2 linked regions of the Homo sapiens genome follow. The protein of the gene in region 1 interacts with the protein of each later gene in a biochemical or structural test. Each region holds a gene or a part of one and is shown in the gene's direction. Other genes may lie near its edges.

What was found.
Region 2: the proteins of BBS4 (region 1) and TOM1L2 form a complex in vitro, tested with the Homo sapiens proteins (one study listed by BioGRID).

Annotation. Positions count from the first base shown.
Region 1 is NC_000015.10:72,719,332-72,731,454, forward strand, and holds part of BBS4 (BBSome complex member BBS4), read left to right. Parts: intron 1-3,457; exon of another isoform or gene 3,458-3,462; coding exon 3,463-3,516; intron 3,517-5,196; coding exon 5,197-5,324; intron 5,325-8,608; coding exon 8,609-8,663; intron 8,664-10,284; coding exon 10,285-10,353; intron 10,354-11,973; coding exon 11,974-12,123.
Region 2 is NC_000017.11:17,859,685-17,871,807, reverse strand, and holds part of TOM1L2 (TOM1-like protein 2), read left to right. Parts: intron 1-2,334; coding exon 2,335-2,468; intron 2,469-4,883; coding exon 4,884-4,932; intron 4,933-5,388; coding exon 5,389-5,512; intron 5,513-8,959; coding exon 8,960-9,077; intron 9,078-10,256; coding exon 10,257-10,332; intron 10,333-12,123. UniProt on the Homo sapiens protein: Acts as a MYO6/Myosin VI adapter protein that targets myosin VI to endocytic structures. May also play a role in recruiting clathrin to endosomes. May regulate growth factor-induced mitogenic signaling.

The DNA of each region.
Region 1 (12,123 bases):
GTAACCTCCAACTCCTGGGCTCAAGTGATCCTCCTGCCTCTGCCTCCTGAGTAGCTGGGGCTACAGGTGCAAGCCACCATGCCTGGCTAAATTTATTTTGTGGAAATGAGGTCTCATGTTACCCAGGCTGGTCTCAAGCTCCTGTCCTCAAGTGATCCTCCTGCTTTAGCTTCCCAGAGTGCTGGGATTACAGGTGTGAGCCATCAAAAAGCAATTTTGAAGGACTGAGCAGAAGAAGAGAACCCATAGAGGGAGATAGGGAAGAGGTAAAGCAGGAGAGCTCAGGGTCACAGGGGGAATGGAACGTATTTCTTAATCTATCCAGTTGGTTGAAAGAGCTCATTTGGTATTACTGACTCACTTGGGATAACCATCCCATTGTTACTAGTAGATGTGATCATTCACAAAACAGCCATTCTTTTTTTTTTTTTTTGTTGAGACAGAGTCTCATTCTGTCACCTAGGCTAGAGTGCAGTGGCTCAATCTTGGCTCACTGCAACCTCTGCCTCCTGGGTTCAAGCGATTCTCCTCCCCCAGCCTCCTGAGTAGCTGGGATTTACAGGCACCCGCCACCATGCCCAGCTAATTTTTGTATTTTTAGTAGAGATGAGGTTTCACCATGTTGGTCAGGCTGGTCTCGAGCTCCTGACGTTGTGATCCGCCCACCTTGGCCTCCCAAAGTGCTGAGACTACAGGTGTGAGCCACCACCTTTTTTTTTTTTAACTTTAAAATTTTTCTTTAAAATTTTCCCCTTCATGGCATTTTTATTTTCTTTTTAGAATATTTTAATGATTTTGAATTTTACTTTTATTAATAGCCCTTACCTACCCTACATATTTCATAAGTACCTGTAGAAAACCTTATAGTAGCTGGAGCATGGTGGCTCATACCTGTAATACCAGCACTTTAAAAGGATGCTGAGTGGGGAGGATCACTTGAGCCCAGGAGTCTGAGACCAGCCTGGGCAACATAGAGACCCAGTTTCTAGGAAAAAAAAATAAAAATTAGTGGTCGTGTGCACCTGTAGTCCTAGCTATTCTAGAGGCTGAGGTAGGAGGATCACGTTAGCCCAGGAGGTTGAGGCTGCAGTGATGCGGTGAACTGTGATTGTGTCACTGCACTTCAGCATGGAAAGCAGAGCAAGACCCTGTCTCAAAAAAAAAAAAAAAAAAGAAACAACCTTGTAGCCCTACTTTCTTGGACTCATCAGGGTATTCCACAGTCTTGCTGCAACAGGGGAATAGTAATTCCTCCTGCCATTATCTTAGTTGACTTTTGGAACAGTTCTGTTAAGTAGGGAGAATTTCCCCCATTGACAAGTGAGGAAGCTAAGGCTTTGGAAGATGGAAGTTGCTACAGTGAGGTAGTTGCTGAGCCAGAACTGGAATTCAGACCTGTGATCTAGGATGATCTAAGATTCCTCGTCTTAAGACTGTGATCTTTTCCACTGTACCAACTGCCTTTGCAGGATGTCTGCTGGGTTCCCTTACCTCCTGAAAGATAGGATTTGACTCTGATTTGTTCTGTTGCCCTTTCCAAATTTCTTTTGCAGTTAGTTTGTTAAAGGTATATTGCTGCCTTCTCAACTATCTATGTCAAAGATTTTAAAAGGTCAGAGGTTAGCCTTCAGGACATCTATTTACTTACCTACCTTAACAATTCCTACTGTAGAGCAGGACATTTAAAGGACAAGAAAGGCTTTATTTCTGCCTTGTCTCTCTCCATGCATGCATTCTTATAGCATGACAAAGTTGGCAGTATACAAGTTTTGGAAGCAGGCCTGAGTTCAAATCCCAATGTTCTATAATATGGACATGATTTGTGATTGAATAAAAAAAATTTTTAAATGTGCGGCATTTGTGAGATAATTGGAAATTTTAACGTAATTGAATATCTAATATCAAGCAGTCACTACTTTTTTTCGAGTGTGACGATGTGGGTAGTTTAAGAAAAAGGCCTTATCTTTTAGAAATAAATACGGAAACATTTGTGGATAAAACGTTGGGCTGTTATTTGCTTACAAAAGTTGTGGGAGTAGATGGGGTGTGGATTGGATGGTTGTTGGGACAGGATGATTAGTACCTAATTCTGTCTGCACTTACGTATGATTGAAATTCTCCCTAGGATGTAGAACTAAAAAAGAAAAAAAAAATCCCAATACTCTCTGTCTTAAGTTAGGTAATCTACTCAACCTCTCTGAGCTTCAATTTCCTTATCTGTAAAATTGGAAAGATTATAACTATGTTGCAGGTTTGCTGAAAATTAAAGTAACATATATGAAAACATCTGGCATAAAGCCTGATGTTAGTAGGTGCTCAACCAATGGTTGCTGTTTTGTTGTTTTTACTATTTTTGGAGACTTGGAAAACATTAAATCAGTTGTTATCTCTGAGCCTGGGGGTCCATGTTTCCTCAGACAGGGACACATCTCCACTACTAATAGGGTAGTTCTTACTATGTTTCCCAAGAGCATTTTCCTTACCCTTGCTTTCTCCTTTTCCAAAGCTACCTTAAATAAAGGGAGGTTTATTATAAAGGAATTTGAGAGTCCATAAAACAGTATCAAGAGATGCAGGTTGGTCTTTTAGTGAAGCAGAACTGGAACGCTTCAGCATCCAAGGTAGCTACTCTGCCTTTTCTGCTTCATCTTTTCTTTCTGTAGATCAAAGGTTGGCAAACTTTTTTTGTAAAGGGCCAGTTAATAAATATTTTAATTTGTATAGCTTCATACAGACTCTGTTGCAACGACTTAACTCTGCAGTTCTAATGCAAAAGAGCCATACAAAAACAATAGTTGTGTCTGTGTTCCAATGAATCTGTACTTATAAAAAAGGGCAGGGAATGGATTTGGCCCATGGACCATAGTTTTCCCATGTCAGCTCTAGACTTCTGCAGATGGCTCCAATTACATGTATTCCATCACAGCAGACTCCAGGTGGCGCTGTCAGTCCTCAAGTTCACATCACCTAGTAAATTTAGTACTTGTAACTAACTAGCTCTCTTCCAATTCCAGATTCCTAGGGAAAGGACTTCAGTTGTGTCAGGTGTCACTATCCAACTGTGTTGCCTTAAGGGCGGAAATGTGTGGCTAGCAGCCCTCTCAGCAGGGGCTGTGGGTAGTCTCTCCTGAGAAGAAGGAGCAAAGGGTATGGGTGATGGGCAACTCTTAAAGAAAAAAGGTATGGGGATGGGCTGGGTATGTGCCCCAGGGTTCCCCATAGATCCAGGAAGATCACCTGTTTATTCTGCTTTTATTTCTTATAATCTGTATTTTTTTATGTTGAGGAACTTATTTTTAACAATTAATTTGAGTATGAACTCTAATAAAAAGCTGACTGTAATGCATAGTTTAAAGTTTAAACCTTGCCGAGCAATAACAATCTCTAGATGTCTGTTGTTTCACTCTAATACTTACTGTGGAATTACACCTGAGTTGTTTTCCTTCTTTTTTATGAGCCTAGGAGATCAGCCATAACCTAGGAGTTTGCTACATATACCTGAAGCAGTTCAACAAGGTAATTTATAGAAGTGGTGATAGATTTCACTGAGGGTGCACTTGTTGCAGAAGTTGTTACATTGCTCATTTGGTATTATCCCTAGTGCTTGCAGAGGTTTTTGGAACTGAAAATTGAAAGTACCTTTATACATTTTTTTCTGTTTTAATTCTCACTTGTCATTATTCATCTGTTGTTTTCTGCTTGTAATAAGAACATGGAAAGTTCTAGAAATATGAGGGAATGGCAGTTTTTCTCCTTTCTTCTTTTTCTCTACCTCCAGTTAAATTTCCCAGTTTAGAAACAGATGCTTAATAAAACATACATATCAAAAAGTGGACCCTTAAGTCTTAAAGGTGTGATCATGACCATGTGAGCTATCTCCATGCCCTGACGGCAACTTAGTTTTTAGGGTCATTGAAAATAAATTTTAAATTTTAAGTGGATCTGATTTCTGAGTTTTCAGTTTTAATTTTATAGTTATTTTCCATGATGAGAAATTATATTTCACTGTGATTAAGCTATAGACTCCTATATCAGAGAAGACAAGTTGAGCTTACCTCAAATTTGGTACTCAGGTAAGAAAAAGTATATATCATAATTGAGGAGTAGACAAAATTACTGAGAGCTCTAAAACTTAGTGATGAGAGCGTTGGGTAGTTTCCTTCATAGAGCTCACAGTTAGTGATTGTGAAGTTTTATTCTCCTTTCTCCGATGCCACCAGGACTGAGAATCTGAATTGGTTAGTACCCATTTGACAATGTTTAGTTTGTGTCAATTTGCAGACTGGTGTAACTAGTATCCCACACTGGTGTGAAAAAAAATATGCACATTAGCAGTTGGGGTGTAAAAGTAACTTTTCTCCTGAGATAACAATATATATACATAAAATACATTTAGTGGGCCCCTTAGGTTTTGTAGATGGATCTATAGTTTTATATACTTGGTTAGGAGATTTTTCTCTTCAGAGACAATTTCAAACAGGCACATTTCTATTCACAGGATTATTCTGAGTCAGGGGAAAAGAAGGATTTGTCTTTGGTTGGATCTGTGCTGAGAAGAAATATATTTAGATTTTACTGTACAGCTAACAGGCTAGGCAAATACAATACCTGGCATTTATATAAATGCTTGTTGAATCTGTGAATGACTAAACAAAGCCCTTTTGTTTACTAGGAGAAGGTAAGCTCCTCCAGAGCAAGGAGTTGGTTTTATAAACTCAAATATATTTAGCATCTAGAACAGCAAGCAGTTGGGTGAATAAATGAGAACAATCTATTTATTCATTTATCATCACATTGATGGGGAAACCTGGCCCACCATAGGGAAGGTTGTGCACTTGGTCAGTGTTACAGCTGGGATTTAGTTTAGTGTAGTACTCTACACTGTACTATGATGGCCCTTTTGACTTATGAAGTATGAGTCATAGGTGTGAATATCAGGCAGAAAACATTCAGAAAGATTAATCGTCTTGTATAAATTCTTCCAAGTGGCTCCAGAAGCAGATATCCCATGTTGCCAGCTGTCTTTTCAACAAGGACAGTTTTGGTATGTTTTGGTCTTTGGGTAGTGGGGGCTGTTTGCTGAAATGTGATGTTCCTATGTCAATACAGCAGAAAGTGTCTTTACATTAGCCATATAAAGGTATAGTTCGTTCAGTGGTAGTGATTTGGTTTTCTTTATTTTGTTAAACTTGTCAGGCACAAGACCAGTTGCACAATGCCCTGAATCTTAATAGGCACGATCTGACTTATATAATGCTGGGGAAGATCCACTTGCTGGAGGGAGACTTGGACAAGGCCATTGAAGTCTACAAGAAAGCAGTGGAGTAAGTGTATCTGTTTCCTTTAAAACAGTGAGAAACTAAAAAAATTGAGTGGATATGTGAACTCCCAAGCCTAAAAGAGTGAATATGTTTGATTAATTACTTACTGTATGAGTTAAAGGTTAAGCTGAAGTTTAAGAGCTCCCAGTAGCTTCAATAAGGTAGACTGTGTTTCTTTCTTACCTATAAGGATGACTGCTGCTTTAGGTTAGCTGGGCAGCTCTATTCTACAAGGTCAGCCAGGGATCCAGGTTTCTTCCTTATTAACTCACCATTCCTTAGGCTGTTGTCTTTACCTGCATGGTTGATGCTGAATGTAACATCCACATCCAGGCTGTGGTGGAAGGAGATGGTTTGGGAAGCTAAGCATGGAATAAGCATCTGGCTATATATATATATATATATAGAGAGAGAGAGAGAGAGAGAGAGAGACATGATCTTACTCCATCACTCAGGCTGGAGTGCAGTGGAGAACACAGCTCACTGCAGCCTCAACCTCTTGGGCTAAAGCAATCTTCCTACCTCAGCCTCCCAAGTAGTTGGGACTACAGGCATGTGCCACCATGCCCAGCTAATTTAAAAAAAAAAACTGTTTTTGTGTTGACAGGGTCTTGCTGTGTTGCCCAGGCTGGTCTTAAACTTCTGGGCTCAAGCGATCCTCCTGCCTCAGCCTTCCAAAGTGCTGGAATTACAGGTGTGAGCCACTGCACCTGGCCTTGGTAATAAGTTTTAAATGACCCAGAAATTGCACACATCGTTCCTGCTTACATTCCATGGTTCAAAACTACATGATAGTTACAAGGGAAGTGGGCAGACATGCACTCAAGAAGAAGGAAATAACAGATTTAAGAGTTGGCCGACAGTCTGCCATTTTGGTATCATATGTTAATAACAGATCTTCTGTTTTCAGAGATATTATTAGGGACAGAAATCTCCTGATTCAGTAAAAAACAAAACAAAACAAAACAAAACATTTGGCCTTATTAGCATGAGACCAGTATCTTTTTTCCCCCTTCCCCATTTTCCCTTCCCCTTCCCCGTTTTCCCCTTCCCTTTCCCCGTTTTCCCTTCCCCCTTTTCTCTTCCCCCTTTCCCTTTCCCCCTTCCCCCTTCCCCCTTCCTCTTCCCCTTCCTCCTTCCCTCTTCCCCCATCCCCCTTCCCCCATCCCCCTTTCCCCATCCCCCTTTCCCCATCCCCCTTTCCCCATCCCCCTTTCCCCATCCCCCTTTCCCCATCCCCCTTTCCCCATCCCCCTTTCCCCATCCCCCTTCCCCCTTTCCCCTTCCCCCTTTCCCCTTCCTCCTTTCCCTTCCCCCTTTCCCCTTTTCCCATCTCCCTTCCCCTTTCCCCTCCCTCTCTCCCTTCCTTCCTTTTTCTCTCTTTTCTTTCCATCCTTTCCCTCCCTCCCATTCCCATCTTTCTTTGTTTCTTTCTTTTCTTCCTTTCTTCCTTCCTTTCTTTCCTTCCTTTCATTTATTTCAACAGTCTCGCTCTGTCGCCCAGGGGTGAGTGCAGTGGCGCGATCTCGCCTCACTGCAACCTCTGCCTCCTGGGTTCAAGCGATTCTCATGCCTCAGCCTCCTGAGTAGCTGGGACTGCACGAGCACGCCACCACCCCTGGCTAATGTTTGTATTTTTAGCAGAGACAGGGTTTCACCATGTTGGTCAGGCTGGTCTCGAATTCCTGGCCTCAAGTGATCTGCTTGCCTTGGTCTCCCATAGTGCTGGGATTGCAGGCGTGAACCACTGCGCCCAGCCTTGTGTTGTTACTTTTAAATGGGATAGCTGTAGCAAAATGCCTTGTCTCATTTGTTTGGTCCCTTAATAGAATGTCTGGTCTGTGGTTCAAGGCTTATTATTCCTAATAATTAGATTCTGAACTAAACTTAGATTTCTATTAATTTGTTAATCATCTTTGTCTTCTACCATGGTAGTAAATTTTCTGGTTATATCAGTCACAGCACTGCTTTCTGAATTTTCTTCAACCATATTTTGTGTCTAAAACAGAAAAATCCCTTGGTTTGTTAAGCTACAGAACAGACTTTTGTCATCAAGAGGCTGTATATTTGGGCAAGTAGTAAGGAGCCATGTAACATGTTCAGTGCCTCTGTGGTGCTAGGTAGTAGCCCTGATCCCTGACCCCTGCCTTCTAGAGGTTAGCTCTTTGAGAATAGCATACATAAATCCCAAGGGGAACATTCTTCCAGTAACTGATCAAGGACTTTGGTCACTAAATTTCCTAAGGGAGAAATGTGGACAGCTAAAATCTGAAGCCTTACTGAGAAGATAGAGACCATTGTTCATGACCTACAGCTTTGAAGAGAGTAGTCATGTTGTAGTGGGGAAGCCAATATTGCTAGAATTACAGAAGTTACCTGGCTTTGGGGAGGGAAGTGATCAAAGTGGATGTTTATTATGGCAGAAAGTGAAAGGCGGATTCCCAGTTGAATTGAGAAAGCTCTGTTTGGTCAGCTCAGGCCTCCCCTGGCTGGGGCTTTGCATCTTCTGGTTCAGGTCTTCCTATAGGTAACCAGTGCCCTATATCATTCCTTAGAAGCAGAAGACATTGTTCATAGCCCTTTGGTGTTTTACTGTTGAAACTGTCTGATGATCCTATGGTCAGATCATCTCAACTCAGTGTTGCCTTGGTTTTGTGACAAAGACAAATACTAGTGAGGGATTGAGCAGGCAATCCCTGATGTGAGTATTTTACTTACATCAGTGTTTACTCCCAAAGGTCAGTAGCACCTTCTTTCCTAGGATTGGTATGTATCTTCCTTCTTTTGTTTAGTTTGGCTACTTGGTATAGCTCTTTGTTTAAGTGGAGAGAACAGCATTAGGGGCCTTGGGATCCTAAATTACATAGAAAATTATGCTGCCTGGCATTGTGAGCACAATGAGGATAGAAAAAAAATTCCACAAGAGAGGACTGGTGAAACTGTGTGTGTTCTAGGCTGACTTGGTTTATAAAGCATTGTTCTTTAATTTTATCAGTGTGACCAAGACAGTCATGCAAAACATTCTATAGGTTCTTTCTTAGGACTTTTACCCTAAGAAAGGAATCTGAATTCTAAGCCTCATTTTTCTTGCTGAGCAGTTCTCCTTATCACCAGGGTTGAGATGACCTACTTTTGATGGCAATTCCCAAATTGCCTTCAGGTATTTCCACGGGGAGGAAGAGGCTCAGTGGGGTCTGTCAAGTATTGCACGAGGGCATATTACTGTGCATGTGTCTTCGTGTTTCTCATCTACATCTTGTTTCCCTCTGAGCATCTCTATGTTGCAGGTTCTCACCAGAAAATACAGAGCTTCTTACAACTTTAGGATTACTCTACTTACAGGTAATGAAAACTCTGTACTCATTCATGCACTGATGTTAGAAATGGTTTTGGGTTTGTGTGTATGGTGGTTTTCCTGCATTCTGATATTTATTTTATTAAAGGTCATATAAAGTTCATGAACTACACTCTCTCTATTCGATACTCTTTGCTAAAGGAATTAATTTTCTGCATTTAAATTGGAAGCAATTCTATTTTAGCCTAGTGCAATTATAATTCTTATCTAGGCTGGGTGTGGTCTCATGCCTGTAATCCCAGCAATTTGGGAGGCTGAGGCTGGTGGATCACTTGAGCTCAGGAGTTGGAGACCAGCCTGGGTAACATAGTGAGACCCTGTCTCTACAAAAAATAAAAAAATTAGCCAGGCATGGTGGCATGCTTCTGTAGTCCCAGCTACTTGGGAGGCTGTGATGGGAAGATTGCTTGAACTCGGAAGGCAGAGGTTGCAGTGAGCTGAGATTGAGTCACTGCACTCCATCCTGGGTGACAGAGCCAGATCCTGTCTCAGAAAAAAAAAAAAATTCTTATGCTATCCAGGAAAGAGCATATATGAGAAATAACTCTGGTCTTGGAGGCTGTTATTTTGTTGTGAGGAGAGAAACAGATACAAGTGAGCACTTAGGGCTTTGGGGCAAAGCCATTTCTTTTGATCTTTCTTCCCAGCCAGAGTCTTATTGGAAAGAGAGAAGGCAAAGTATACTTTTATCTAGAATAAGAAGTTTTCTGTCCCCTCAACATTCCTGAATGTGAATGGGATTCTTTTAGCTCCATTGATTCTCTGGCTGAGGACCCAGGGCCCAGGTATCCAAGGGGCTTTTCCCTCTTCCCCAATATACACATTTGCCAAGTTCCTTGGTCAGCTGATTCTGCCTCCAGCCCTGCCTCTGTGGTGGCCTTTATGTCTATTTCATTTTTCTTTAAAAGGAATCAGGAGCTTAACCCTGGGTCTTCCTGGGCTTTGGCTTGGGAGGTTGGCTCCACGGGAGATGAGGATACCCAGCTCATTTCCTGCAAAGAGGCATTAATGTGGAACAGTACTAGTGTGGCAGAGATGGTTCTTATCAAATAGATACTTTGACCTTATCAGGTGACAAATTAACAAAAATAGAAGGAAAACCATGACTGGGGATTTTTAGTTTTCTTTCTTTATTATCTGGTAACTGTAGCTGCTTTTTTTTTTTTTTTTTTTTTTTTTAAAGTCAAGAGAACTCAAAAAAGCCAGAGCATTTCTGTTCTGGGTGAGGTTGGCCAGACTGTTTTTTTTTTTTTTTTTTTGGAGACGGAGTTTCACTCTTTTTGCCTAGGCTAGAGTGCAATGGCGTGATCTCGGCTCACTGCAACCTCTGCCTCCTGGGTTCAAGCGATTCTCCTGCCTCAGCCTCCCAAGTAGCTGGGATTACAGGCATGTGCCACCATGCCTGGGTAATTTTGTATTTTTAGTAGAGATGGGGTTTCTCCATGTTGGTCAGGCTGGTCTCGAACTCCTGACCTCAGGTGATCCACCCACCTTAGCCTCCCAAAGTGCTGGGATTATAGGCATTAGCCACCACGCCTGGTCTGGCCAGACTCTTTTAACTGCCGTCTCCTTGCTGATGTAAATTGTCTTGTTTGCTTTTTTTCCAAGCTCGGCATTTACCAGAAGGCATTTGAACATCTTGGCAATGCACTGACTTATGACCCTACCAACTACAAGGTATTACAGGCTGTGAAGGCTCTGGCCTTCATATAGACGGTCCCACTGCTCCTAGAGGTGATCTGACCCTGGAAAGCAAAGGAATAGCTTCTTAAATTTGGATACCTGAGAAATAGAAAAAATATAAATAAAAGGTGGCTCTTCTTATTTGAAAATAGTGTCAAGTATGCTCTACTTATCTTCTAAAAGTGCACATTTGTTATAATAGACGTGTAACCCCTGCAGAAGGCAGATCATAGTGCTAGTAAAGCTTATGTGTTACTTAGGAAATTAGCAATGCCTCCACAACTATTGTCAAAAATAAATCTGCGGCCCGGCGCGGTGGCTCACGCCTGTAATCCCAGCACTTTGGGAGGCTGAGGTGGGCAGATCACGAGGTCAGGAGATCGAGACCATCCTGGCTAACACAGTGAAACCCCGTCTCTACTAAAAATACAAAAAAATTAGCCGGGCGTGGTGGCGGGCGCCTGTAGTCCCAGCTCCTCGGGAGGCTGAGGCAGGAGAATGGCGTGAACCCGGGAGGCAGAGCTTGCAGTGAGCTGAGATCACGCGCCACTGCACTCCAGCCTGGGTGACAGAGCGAGACTCTGTCTCAAAAAAAAAAAAAATAAAAAATAAAAAAAATAAATCTGCTGGGCATGGTGGCTTATGCCTGTAATCCCAGCACTTTGGAATGCTGAGGCAGGAGGATCACTTGAGGCCAGGAGTTCAAGACCAGGCTGGGCCACATAGTGAGACCCCCATTTCTACAAAAAAAATTATCCAGGCATGGTGGCACACACCTGTAGTCCTAGCCACTCGGAAGGTGGAAGAGGGAAGATCACTTGAGCCCAGGAGTTTGAGTCTACAGTGGGCTATGATGGCACCACTATACTCCAGCCTGGGTGACAGAGACCCTGTCTCTAAAAAGAAACAATAATTATGTTGAAATGACTTCTAGAGTCCTAATGATTTGATACTACAACTTTTTTTCTAGATGTGACTTTGGGAATGAGAAGGAATAGCATCAAATGGATGAACATCATTGAGGAGATGCAGCAAGACAAGCTGTTTATTAAAGGATACAAACTGAATTCTGATTTAGGAAGTAACATTAGACTGTCAGCTCCCACCTTGATACCTTTCCTTAGAGAAATGAAAGGGCTGGGCTGATGAAGCCTAAAGCTGACTCGCCCTCTGTTCTACGGTAGAAAGAAATTTACCTTAAGTAGCCACGTACAGGTGTATTTCAGGTATCTAGAACACTTGGTATACCAAATAGGGGCTGCAGAGAACAGATTAAAGGAAGTTTTTACTTAAAGGGCTCTGGTATTCATTCTGAAATACTGACTTTCCTGGCTAGAAGTAGGAAACAGATGGGTAAAGCAAGTAACATTTTATCTTTTTTTTTTTTTTTTTTTTTTTTTTTTTTTGTGCTGTGCCAGAGAGCCACAGTGTAGAGTGCAAGGACATTCCTCAGGAACATTTGTCCCAATAGGTTGGATATATTTATGTCCCTGGAAGAAATTTTCCAGTCCCATCTATGCTGATGGGCCTGCTGAGTATAGACTCAGGAAAGCTGCCCCACTGCTACAGCCTTTTGGGAATGACTGAATGACTTTCTCTGTGCCATGTTTTCAGGCCATCTTGGCAGCAGGCAGCATGATGCAGACCCACGGGGACTTTGATGTTGCCCTCACCAAATACAGAGTTGTGGCTTGTGCTGTTCCAGAAAGTCCTCCACTCTGGAATAACATTGGAATGTGTTTCTTTGGCAAGAAGAAATATGTG
Region 2 (12,123 bases), on another chromosome or scaffold:
TTAGATCCTGGATGAACAAGAATTCCCCATTCTCTGAGTGAAGAGTGCTGAGAAGACTGAGAGTATGTGGATAACTGAGCTGGTAATTTGCGGGGACCAAGAGTTCAGAATACTTTATATTTTATTTTTATTTTTTGGAGACAGGGTCTCACTCTGTTCCCCAGGCTGGAGTGCAGTAGTGCAATCTCTGCTCACTGTAGCCTCTGCCTCCCGGATTCAAGCAATTCTCCCACCTCAGCCTCCTGAATAGCTGGGATTACAGGTGCATGCCACTGTGCCCAATTTATTTTTGTATTTTTTCGTAGAGATGGGGTTTTACCATGTTGGCCAAGCTGGTCTCAAACTCCTGACCTCAAGTGATCCGCCTGCCTCGGCCTCCCAAAGTGCTGGGATTACAGGCATGAGGCACCGCACTTGGCCTCTGAATACTTTTTTTTGAGATGGAGTCTCGCTCTCTCTCCCAGTCTGGAGTGCAGTGGCGTGATCTCGGCTCACTGCAAGCTCCGCCTCCTGGGTTCACGCCATTCTCCTGCCTCAGTCTCCCAAGTAGCTGGGACTACAGGTGCCCGCCACCAACGCCCGGCTAATTTTTTGTGTTTTTAGTAGAGACGGGGTTTCACCGTATTAGCCAGGATGGTCTCGATCTCCTGACCTCGTGATCCATCCGCCTCGGCCTCCAATAGTTTTGGGATTACAGGCGTGAGCCACCACACCTGGCCCCGGCCTCTGAATACTTTAGAGTCATTAATTAATTCTCTCAGAAGTACTTGGGGAGAGCCTCCCATGTGTCATGGGTACCAGGGAAATACCTTCTCTGCCCTCAAGGAGCTTCAGTCTAGACGGGAGGGCAGATAAGAAGCCCAGCCCCTGTGTGAGTGCTGTGTTGCAGGATACCAGGGACATGCAGGGGGGATGCCTTTGATTCCCCACTGGCTGATTGACCACCTTGGTGATGTGTTCAGCAGATGATTACTGGGCTTTTTCACTGTGTGTGGCTCAGTGCGGGGCTTGAGGGCATCCTTGAGTGGATAAATGGTAACACCCCCTCAAGAGTTTATGATGTGGTAGGAAGGAAGACCCTGTAGCCAAGCTAGCAAGATTATGAGACAATATGAGGAACTAAAGAGAGATTGCCGTGTCTCCTGTGAATAAATCAGTTACTTCTACCAGAAACGGTTTCAAAATGAAGTCGTTTTGAGGCTGAGCTGTGAGAAGGAGAGACTTATCCTTCATGTCTTATCCCCTTAACTCACTGGCACCCTCCAGTGCCCAGGTAGGTGGGAACAGCATTTCCCTCTGCTTTAACCCTGTATGGCACACTGGGACTTGTAGCTTTGGTCACATGCTTGGGGGCCAGCCTGGCAGTGTTGCCAGCTCCCTCCTCTGTAGCATCCTCAGTCTGGCATCGAGATGGCAAGGGGCCTGGCAGGAATTGACGGAGCTCTGTAAGCAAGTTTGAACAAGGGCATCAGTAAGTCTGCTGTTCTGGAACAGGGAAGGCTCATGGAAGCCAGGCCATAAAGTGCTAAGGCTCTGTCGTCACGGGGATGTTGCTTCTAAGGGTAGAGAGGGCTCCAGGGGCAACCGGGGGTGTGCGAATTTCCTCTTTCGGCCAGCCAGGGAGCTGCCTGGGCTTCTGAGGTCTCGGCAAAGTGGCAGACGTGCCACCAAAATATACCTAATGCAGTCATAAAATACACTCCTGCTGTTGCTGGAAGTGTAAGTAAACTGATGTCATATTTTTGGAGGGCCTTTTACTATTACTAATTAATGTTATAAATGACCATACCCTTTCACCTAGAAATTTCCCTGCTAAGGAACCTGTCCTATGGAAGTGCTTGCCCAAGTGCATATGCATGTGTGTGTACAGGTGTTCATTGCTGCATTATTTAGGTTGGCCACAAAAAGAGAGACCACAATCTAAATGTCCAGCAATAGAAGAATGGCGAGATACATTATGAAACACACAGAAAGGAATGAGGCAGTCTGTACCAAGTGATGGAGAACGGTGTCTGGAATATTTTGTTGAGAAAAAGCAATCTGGAAAGAATCACATTTTAATATTTTTTAATGATTTGTACAAGCATGTACTTGTATACATACAACAGTATGTCTGGACATTTGTCTGCTGAAAAAGTACTTGTTTCCTCTGCGGAAGGAGGGGCAGGCAGTGAAGAGGGAACTTCTACTTTGAATTCGGCACATGTCTGGTTTTATGAACAAGCATGTACTCCTTTTGTGACTTTTAAGAATCAGTACAAATTTTTTCAAAGGAGATAGAATGTGACGAAAAGCACACCCAGCAGGCTACCCAGAGGTGCATGTGTTCCCTAGGAGCTCAACAGGACCTGTCGGGCCATGCAGCAGCGCATCGTGGAGCTCATCTCCCGCGTGTCCAATGAGGAGGTCACCGAGGAGCTGCTGCATGTGAACGATGACCTCAACAACGTCTTCCTTCGATACGAGAGGTGGGAGCCGGATTTCTTTTTTTTTTTTTTTCCCTTGAAAAGATTGTTGCCATAACAGAGGGATTTCTTTCATAAACAAAGGAAAGAGAGGGAGAGGGAGAGAGATTAGAGTTGGAAAATACTCATCAGAGATGCTAATTTGTTCCCGGCTGACAGGAAAAATGCTTCTTGTCCTCCTGGGAACTGAGCAGCAGAAGCAGCAGGAAGTTGACGTGCAGAATTAGGCTCTGCCCTTTGTAAGCCTCAGGCTGCTCTGCCTTTCCCCACTGCCCCGCCACCCCCAGCCCCAGGGAGGGGTAGCACTTGGGGGCCTCTGGGCCCCAGAGCTTCTGCACCTGCTCCTTTGATGATCCTTTGAATTTGAAAAGGATTAAAGGGAAAAAAAATCTCTAGTAAGAAAAAGGATTTCCTCTTTCCCATCTTAAAAAAAAAGAAAAAAGAAAAAAAGCTTTTCCCTTTGCAAATGTCAATGTTATCTAGAGCATTCAGGGGAAGCAGGCGGGTGTAAGTGCCGGAATGCTGCTGCTTAGGGAAGCGTGCACACATTCATTCCAGTTCTTTCTGCAGCCAAATCATTTTTGAGTTTGAGGTAACAAACCTGCAAATTCTTTTTCATTTCCAAAGCCTTCCCTCAGGACAAAGTCCAAAATGTCTTATTTAGACCTAGTTTTAAATAGGAGGAATAATGGCAAGCACAGTTCCCATCTCATCACCTGATGGGAGCACACTGGGCTTTCATGAAGGACTCAGCATAAGGACCAGAAAGGACCATGATCAGGCCAACCTTTTCCCCTTAAAGATGAGGCTTGAGAGGACAGGACAGTGGCTTGAGTCCCCTGCAGATTTAAGGTCCTGGTCCCCTCTGCCGCACCAGCTGACTCACAACCTACTGCTGGATTCATCAGGAGGACAAGGACCTGGCATCAGTTAGGGTGAGTGGGACAGATGCTTGCATTTGCGTTACCCTTTGGGGACCTAAAGGGTGATTTTGTTATGGCTGTCACAGCCTTGGGCCTTGTCTCATCTTTTGACTACGGAAGTACACACCAGTGGCTCTGTGCCCACCTGACAGGTGAATAAACCTCTGCAGTAAGTGTGGGGGCATCCCCAGGACCCCCCAGTGCATCAGTTGGAGAACAGGAGCAGATATAAGGGGACCTGACTCCCAGCCCGAGGCCCCTTTGTCTTGCCATGTGATTCCAGTTTCTCCATGGTAAATGGGCTTGGGTTTAACCTATTAAACCTATTTAAGCCCTGCTAGAAAGCATAACAGGAGCTAACTAATATGAGTATTTTCACCCAAGAGTCTCCCAGTCCAAGCATTACACATAATTCAGAGGCAAAGCCTGGGGCTGGTGGCTGGAAGTGCTATCCTGGTTAGAGTGTCTTTGATGATACTCATTGTTCATTGAAGATGAGTGTGGGAAAGGTACCCCAGGATTAAAATTGTTTCAGATGTATTAATATTCCTGTTCTCCTTGTAGACCACTGTTGAAAAAACACACAAGTCGTTTTTAAAACCACAGTGGACACTCACTGCCTTACCCAGATCATTCCTCCTGGGGATCTCTTTCTTGTCACCAGCTGCTGACCCCAGCAAGTTGGGAGACAAATCTGGAGCAGCATAACTCACTAAAGCTGGGTGTCTAAGGCTCCAGCTGGAAAAAGTCTCTTAGCTACCGCTGCCCATGGCATTTGGAGTTTTTAAATACGATACAGAACATAATCTATTCTGCCCCACCCCAACACACACCTCATAACTACTCTTCCGTTCCCCACCTGACAGGAGGATGACCTGGCCTTCGACAGTTGCTCAAAGCCAACTCCCCCTGCACTGCCTGACTGGGTGCAGAGGACACTCACTCCACCCTCCTAGCAGTCCTTCGATGACTGGCCCAGGCCTCTCTGTAGCAGCTACTGGCGAGCATTTCCCCAGGCCGTAGCCAGGGCCATGCGTCCGCCTTCCTCCTGCTGGTGCCCACCCTATGTGTGCCCCACCCCCTTTCCCCAGAGGCTGAGTTGGGAGCATGTTAGGAACACTAGCTAGTTGCTCCTGAACACAGCCCTATGAAATAGGGAGTCTGCAGCTCCAAGGTAAGGTGGTTAAGCCACCCTCCCTCCAGGGCCCAGGTGTGTGAGGAGAGGCTGGGGACACTCACAATGACCTCCATGATGGGCCAGCCACCACCCCTTTCTGATGCCCACTCTGGGTGCTGGGTGAGAAGCTGATCCTCTCAGGGGGAGCCCCACACAGAGGAAGCCGTGGCAGAGTTGATATATGGTTTCACTCCCTAGCCCCCAGGTGGGACTGGCTGGTCTTGGTCCCAGGGATTCTTCATAGGACTAGTGAGCACCCCACAGGGCCATATCACAGGCATCCTCTCTCCTTACTTCTGCTTTCCCTTCCCCTGTTAGGTTCGAACGATACAGGTCTGGCCGATCCGTTCAAAATGCCAGTAATGGAGTAAGTATTCCTTCAGAATCCTGTCATCTCCTGAGGCCAGACCTACCCCTCCACGTTTTGGAGGCTGGAGAGACCTCCAGTTTTTCTAACTGGTTTTGAAATATTTGGGAAATTGAAGAGGCAAGCTCTGGTTGATGGGATACTAGGGCAGAGCTAGCAGGCACCCCTGATGGGAAGGTGGCAAGCAAGCCCTAAGTTTGCATCTCCCAGGACAGTCACTGTTGACTCAGCAACCCCTCCTTCTAGTGGGGACGGGGAGGAGGCAGTGAGCAGGGCTCACTGACATCCAGGCCCACCATGGACCTGGAAGGCAGGTGGGGGAAGTGGCCTTGCTTCTGTACTAGAGCAGCGCTGATACTTTTCTTCTTGGAACCCTGCATAGTTGCCTTGCCAGCTTCTACCTCAGAGCCTGACTCCAGGGTTCTGGGGCTTATGGCCAATCTCATGTTCTGACAGGTACTGAATGAAGTAACCGAAGACAACTTAATAGACCTGGGGCCAGGGTCTCCAGCCGTGGTGAGCCCAATGGTGGGGAACACAGCGCCCCCATCTTCCCTCTCCTCCCAGCTTGCAGGCTTAGGTGAGTGTCTCACAGGGACAAAAGGGCCTACCTACTTCCTACCACTGGCCTCCCTTGCAGGCCACCTCTCTTTCTTTCTTGGAAGACCCAAAGAGAGTCTTTTGGGAAATACATGTGAAAGTGTATTCCTGAGTCCTAGCCAGTTGTACCACCTTACTTTCAATTCATACCTTTTTTCCCCCTAAATTTGAAGTTTAAAATCTATGTTGGAAAGCAGGGATGGGGGAAATTCCAATGAATTAAAGAAAGGTCACGGCCGTGCGCAGTGGCTCACGCCCGTAATCCCAGCACTATGGGAGGCCGAGGTGGGTGGATCACCTGAGGTCAGGAGTTTGAGACCAGCCTGACCAACATGGCGAAACCCAGTCTCTACTAAAAATACAAAAATTAGCTGCGCATGGTGGGCACCTGCAATCCCAACTACTCGGGAGGCTGCGGCAGGAGAATCACTTGAGCCTGGGAGGTGGAGGTTGCAGTGAGCCGATATCGCATCATTGCACTCCAGCCTGGGCGACAGAGCAAGACACTGTCTCAAAAAAAAAAAAAAAAAAAAGAAAGGTCACCTGCCATGTTTTATATGGAACATTCCCTATGATTGAAGTAATTTCCTTTTCAATATTAACTAGGTCAAGGCCGGGCGCGTAATCCCAGCATTTTGGGAGGCTGAGGTGGGTGGATCACTTGAGGTCAGGAGTTTGAGACCAGCCTGGCCAAAATGGTGAAACCCCGTCTGTACTAAAAATACAAAAAAATTAGCCAGACTTGGTGGCGGGCACCTGTAGTCCCAGCTACTCAGGAGGCTGAAGCAGGAGAATTGCTTGAACCCGGGAAGCAGAGGTTGCAGTGAGCCGAGATCGCGCCATTGCACTCCAGCCTGGGGGACGACTCCATCTCAAAAAAATAAATAAATATTAACTAGGTCAAGGAGGGCAGATAGGTTTCAGCTCTTTGGCTTCTTGGAACACAGGTTTGAGGAGGATGCTGAAGCCACATCAGGGCTTAGAAAAGTCTGTGATTGATTGATTGTCAATATCTACAGAGGGCTTGGAAACAGGAGGTAGCAGCACTGAAATATTTGCTCTCCTTGAACTTTACCATCAGCCTAAAGCAGTCCATTGTCTGGAACTTAAAAGAAACTCACCACTTTCCACAGTTCATTTAGTTTGTACATTCAAAGTGTGTATATGACTCTAGCACATTGGTTATACTGGATGATACCAATTTATAACAAATGAAATTATAACATTGAAATAATAAGCATGGCCCTCAAAATTCTTTCCTCTGTCTTGCTTTTCTGTTTTCCTTTTTAAAAAATATTTCTCGTCTACTTTCCTTTCATTTGACTTGAGTTAAACTTCTAGTGGCTATCAGTTGCTGTAATTGTAGCTTCTCAATATTTCGTATATTTGTAGCCACTATTTCTGTATCAGAACAGATGTCTCTGCCTTCAGTCAGTCCAGCATATATGACTGCCAGATTTAATACTTAAAATTCAAAGTGTAACACCGGTAATCCCAAGACTTTGGGAGGCTGCGGCAGGTGGATCACCTGAAGTCAGGAGTTCAAGACCAGCCTAACCAACATGGCAAAACCCCATCTCTACTAAAAATACAAAAATCAGCTGGGCATGGTGGTGTGTGCCTGTAATCCCAACTACTAGGGGGGTTGAGGCAGGAGGATCGCTTGAACCCGGGAGGCGGAGGTTGCAGTGAGCCGAGATTGTGCCACTGCACTGCAGCCTGAGCAACAGAGCAAGATGCCATCTCAAAAAAGAAAAAAAAAAAAAAGCCGGGTGCGGTGGCTAACGCCTGTAATCCCAGCACTTTGGGAGGCCGAGGCGGGTGGATCACAAGGTCAGGAGATCGAGACCATCCTGGCTAGCACGGTGAAACCCTGTCTCTACTAAAAATACAAAAAATTAGCCAGGCGTGGTGGTGGGCGGCTGTAGTCCCAGCTACTTGGGAGACTGAGGCAGGAGAATGGCGTGAACCCGGGAGGCGGAGCTTGCAGTGAGCCGACATCGCTCTACTACACTCCAGCCTGGGTGACAGAGCGAGACTCTGTCTCAAAAAAAAAAAAAAAATCAAATTGGATTCTGCTACCTCTCTTCTTAAAAAAGGTATAGTAGGCCAGGCATAGTGGCTCACGCCTGTAATCCCAGCACTCTGGGAAGCCAAGGCAGGCGGATTGCTTGAGTCCAGGAGTTCAAGACCAGCCTGGGCAACATAGCAAAACCTCATCTCTACTAAAAATACAAAAAAATTAGCTGCGAGTGGTGGCACACACCTGTAGTCCCAGGTACTCAGGAGGCTGCAGTAGGAGAATCTCCTGAGCCCAGGAGGTTGAGGCTGCAGTGAGCTGAGATCATGCCACTGCACTCCAGCTTGGGCATCCAGAGTGAGACCCTGTCTCAAACAAAACAACAACAACAACAAAAGTGTAGTGTCCACCAGGGGTGGTGGCTCACACTTGCAATCTCATCACTTTGGGAGGCCGAGGTGGGAAGATCACTTGAGGCCAGGTGTTTGAGACCAGCCTGGGCAACATAACGAGACCTTGTCTCTACAAAATAATTTTAAAACAGCTGGGCATGGTGGCACATACCTGTAGTCCTAGCTACTTGGGAGGCCAAGGTGGGAGGATCACTTAGCCCGGGAGGTCAAGGCTAAAGTGAGCCATGATCATGCCAAGAGAGTAAGACTCTGTCTCTTTAAAAAAAAAAAAAAAAAAAAGTCTAGTGTCTTCCCACCCACTCCTTTACCTGGCATTTGAGGTATTACCAGCCACTTCCTCCACAAATTTTTTCCTGTGAGCGTTGTTCACTTCACACACCCTGGCCTCCAAACCCCGTGCCTTTTTATCTGCCTTTCCCCTTCTCCCCACAGCATCCTCCTCATTATCCTTACAGACCCACTGTTGTGTTGGTTTTGAGTCTTTCCTGATGTCTCAAGCCAAGCACTGCTGTGGCTTGTCTCTTGCCCACTCTGACCTTCTTGAAGCTGAGGACCATATCAGATTCAATTTGGTCTACTCAAGATCTAGCTCTGAACATGGTGGGTACCTAAGAAATATTTGCTGAATAAATAGATGTTCCAGGTCCTTGGACATTGTGATTGAGTTAATGAGGAGCCCAAGCGAGAAGGGCATTATGGAAAATCTGCAGGTGCACTGGCGCCAGTCCCTGCCTTGTCACCCCAGCAATCTCTTTTTTGTTATGACTCTTTCGCCTCCTTGAGCAGTTTGAGGGGCAGTGGCTGTTCTGTCCCCCATCTGGCCCGCCCTGGCTCCTCCGGCATGTGGTGCACTGGGAGTACCAAGGAAAGTCCCGCCCCACCCTCCCCATGGAACCTAAACCCACCTGGCTGGCGTCCTAGCTTGGGGGCCCTTCATCAGATCTACAGTCTACATTTTGTTCTCATCTGCCACCCATTTGTTTTGTTGCCACAGACTTGGGGACAGAGAGCGTCAGTGGCACCCTCAGTTCACTCCAGCAATGTAATCCCCGTGACGGCTTTGACATGTTTGCCCAGACGAGAGGAAACTCCTTGGCTGAGCAGCGCAAGACGTATGTGGGGCCCCTTTTAGTGGCTCTCTAAAGATATTGGGGGGATTGACCCATGCCTGGTCACAGGCCAGCACAAAAAGGCATTTATTTACCATGTCCAGGACTGCCAGGAACTTTAAAGCATGGCTGTAAGGACTTGGCATTAGATGCAGATACTGAATAAATACCAACTGCCCACCTCCTCCCCCACCCCCCCAAACACACACACACTCTCCTGCCCTTGGGGTTGATTGGAGTGTGATTTCTCCTGTCAGTTGTAAGAGACAGCTTTTCTCTTTTCTCCCCATGCTGCTGCTGCTGCAGACACCACCCTGCCTGGCCCCTCATCCACAGGAGAAGCTTGGAAGCAGGAGGGTGCAGCCATGCAGGGTGAACCCATTCCTTACAGCGAGATTTTCCTGACTAAAATAAGTGGTCAGAGCAGAGGCTCCTCTGATAGCAGCTCTGGCTAGGATGAGCCATCTGGAATTCAGGGAGTTGATTCCAAAAGAGAGAATCTCCTACATCTCAGGGAGGCACTGTACATGTTTTGAGCTTTCTGTTCAGCCTAAAGGCGGGTGAAACACACTTTTTCCCACCTTTCCCAGGGACCCAGCATCTTGGTGCACTCAGCACCCTGAGTCCTGCTTGGGGCTCAGTAGGGTAAGCAGAAACCCAAGGTCCCATGTACCCTTCACCACCAAAGGTTGATTGTAAAACAGATATAGCTAAAGGAGTCGGAGAGTGGAGGAAGACCTCCCATAATCAGTGACAGGCCCGGGTCCCAGAGACCACCTTCCCTGTCAAATGCCACTGAGGCTGCTGCTAATAAAATAAGAATTAATGTTACTTTGTGTTTATCTAGTCTTCCCTCTGAGGAGTATTAGGGCACTTTGGACATTCAGCTTCAGAGATGCTCAGTATTGTTACTCAAGAGAGGGATGTTGAGGTGCACAAAATCTGAGATCGCAGAGATTAGTGGCTCAGCCTGAGCTAGGACCCAGGCCTCCTAGCATCCACTGCAGGGAGACAGACAACATGAGCCCTTAGCCTCTGCTCAATGTCAAGGTTTCAGGAAATGTTTTTCCAAGGACATCTGAGGAAGGACCATAGGATAGAAGTGATTACAGGCCACTACCCCATCCCTCCATGACCACTGGAGGAAAATGAACTCTGCTTGTGCTGCTTCTTCATCTCCAGGGTAACCTATGAGGATCCTCAGGCTGTCGGAGGACTTGCTTCTGCACTAGACAATCGAAAACAGAGTTCAGAAGGGGTAGGTCTTTAACCCTGTTTTTCTGCCTGGAGTCTTCTGGAGGGAAAGTCAGGTGGTTTGGCAAAGCTGGCTGGGTAATTCAGCAGAAACTGGCTTGCACAGGGGGCAGGGACACCCTGGGGGAGAGACCCACGGGGGACACCCCGTGGAACCCAGGTAGTGCCTCATTGAGTCTTCACCTCACCCCGTGAGATGAGGCCACACATGAGCTTCCCAATCCACCCAAGAGAAAACAGTCCCAGGCAGGTGGGAGACAGGCTGAGACACCCAGAGAGCAGACAGCAAGCTGGGGTTCCAATCCTAGGATTAGTGTCCATTTCCAGAACCCCTGCTGTTCCTACCACAGTGGCCCCAAGTTCTCCAGGCACAAGTCTCCTATGGTCACCTGTTACAGTGCCACAGGGTGGTCAGTGCTCTGATAAAACCATGGCCTGCACCAGGAAGGACAATGCTGACCCGAGCCACATCTCTGATGGCCATTTGTCACTGGCCTAGCAGAGCAGTACCAACCCCATTAGAAGGCACTCGAGAGCCAGGGTTTGTTTACAGAGCTGGTGCAGTTGGGTGGTGGCTGGGAGGGTGTCCTGTGGCGGTGAGGGGGTGCGGCACAGTGAAGTGGAGGGAATGGTATGTGTTTGGGCCTCCCCAAACATAACCATGCTTTCTGTACAATTTCGGATTACTGAAGGGGAAAGAATGTGTGTCTTAATGCTTCTCATGAGATTTTTGTTTTTGCCTAACAAAGAAATGTGTATGAATGCACGTCTGTTTGCAGGGGCAGGGAGGAGGAGGGTCCTTGGAATAGCTGCCGACAACAGCTGGAACTCCTGTCTGGGTCCCCCAGCTGGGCTAGAGAGGGCAGTGATCATCTGTCCACTGGACAGGAAGGTTTGCAAAGGGCTGTTTGCTTACTGGGTCCCAATTTTTAGCCTTCTGAAGCCCCTGTCCAATGGGCCCAGGCAGGCAGCAGTGCTGGTTTCCACGGGATGCTCCTTCTTGGGGGAAGGGACTCACTCCCTCATCCATGCTGGTCTTCACCTGGTGGATCTGAGGGCATGCATCCCTCTGCACTGGTCACCAGAGGGCGCAGAAGAGCCAGCTGGCTGCCTTGGGTCCTCAGTGCCGTGCCTTTCCACAGGAGTGGGCAGTGCCACCTGAACCCCTGAGACTGGGACACTCAAAATCAATGCAGTGCTCATGGCTCTGATTCTCCCATTACTTAGAATGTCCTCCCACCTGCCCCAGCGTGGGCATTAGAGAGCCCAGCCAGGGGCCTACCAGGATACTGCCTGGTGAGGACATCCCCTCCTCGTGGCCAACCCTGGCCTGCACTGGGAGCAGCCCTGTTGTGCCCCTATGAGGCTGACCTCATTTGTCCCTCACTCTGGGTCCAGGACCTGCCTTGTCCATGCCAGGGTGTGTCCTGCTGCACCCCTGCCATTATCAGCGCCCAGGCCTGGGTCTGAGCCCAGGAGATGTGAGTGACTTCCCGCCCTTCACCCTTTGTGTGTGTGGCTTGGACTAGCTCCCTGTTTTCAAAGGTCCTGATGACTCCAGCAGGTTTTCCACCCAGCAGTAGGCAGATTGCTTTTTTTGAGATGGAGTCTCGCTCTGGCGCCCAGGTTGGGGTGCAGTGGCGCGATCTTGGCTCACTGCAGCTTTCCTCTCCCAGGTTCAAGCGATTGTCCTGCCTCAGCCTCCTGAGTAGCTGGTATTACAGGTGCCCACCACCACAGCCGGCTAATTTTTGTGTTTTTACTAGAGACAGGGTTTCACTATATTGGCCAGGTC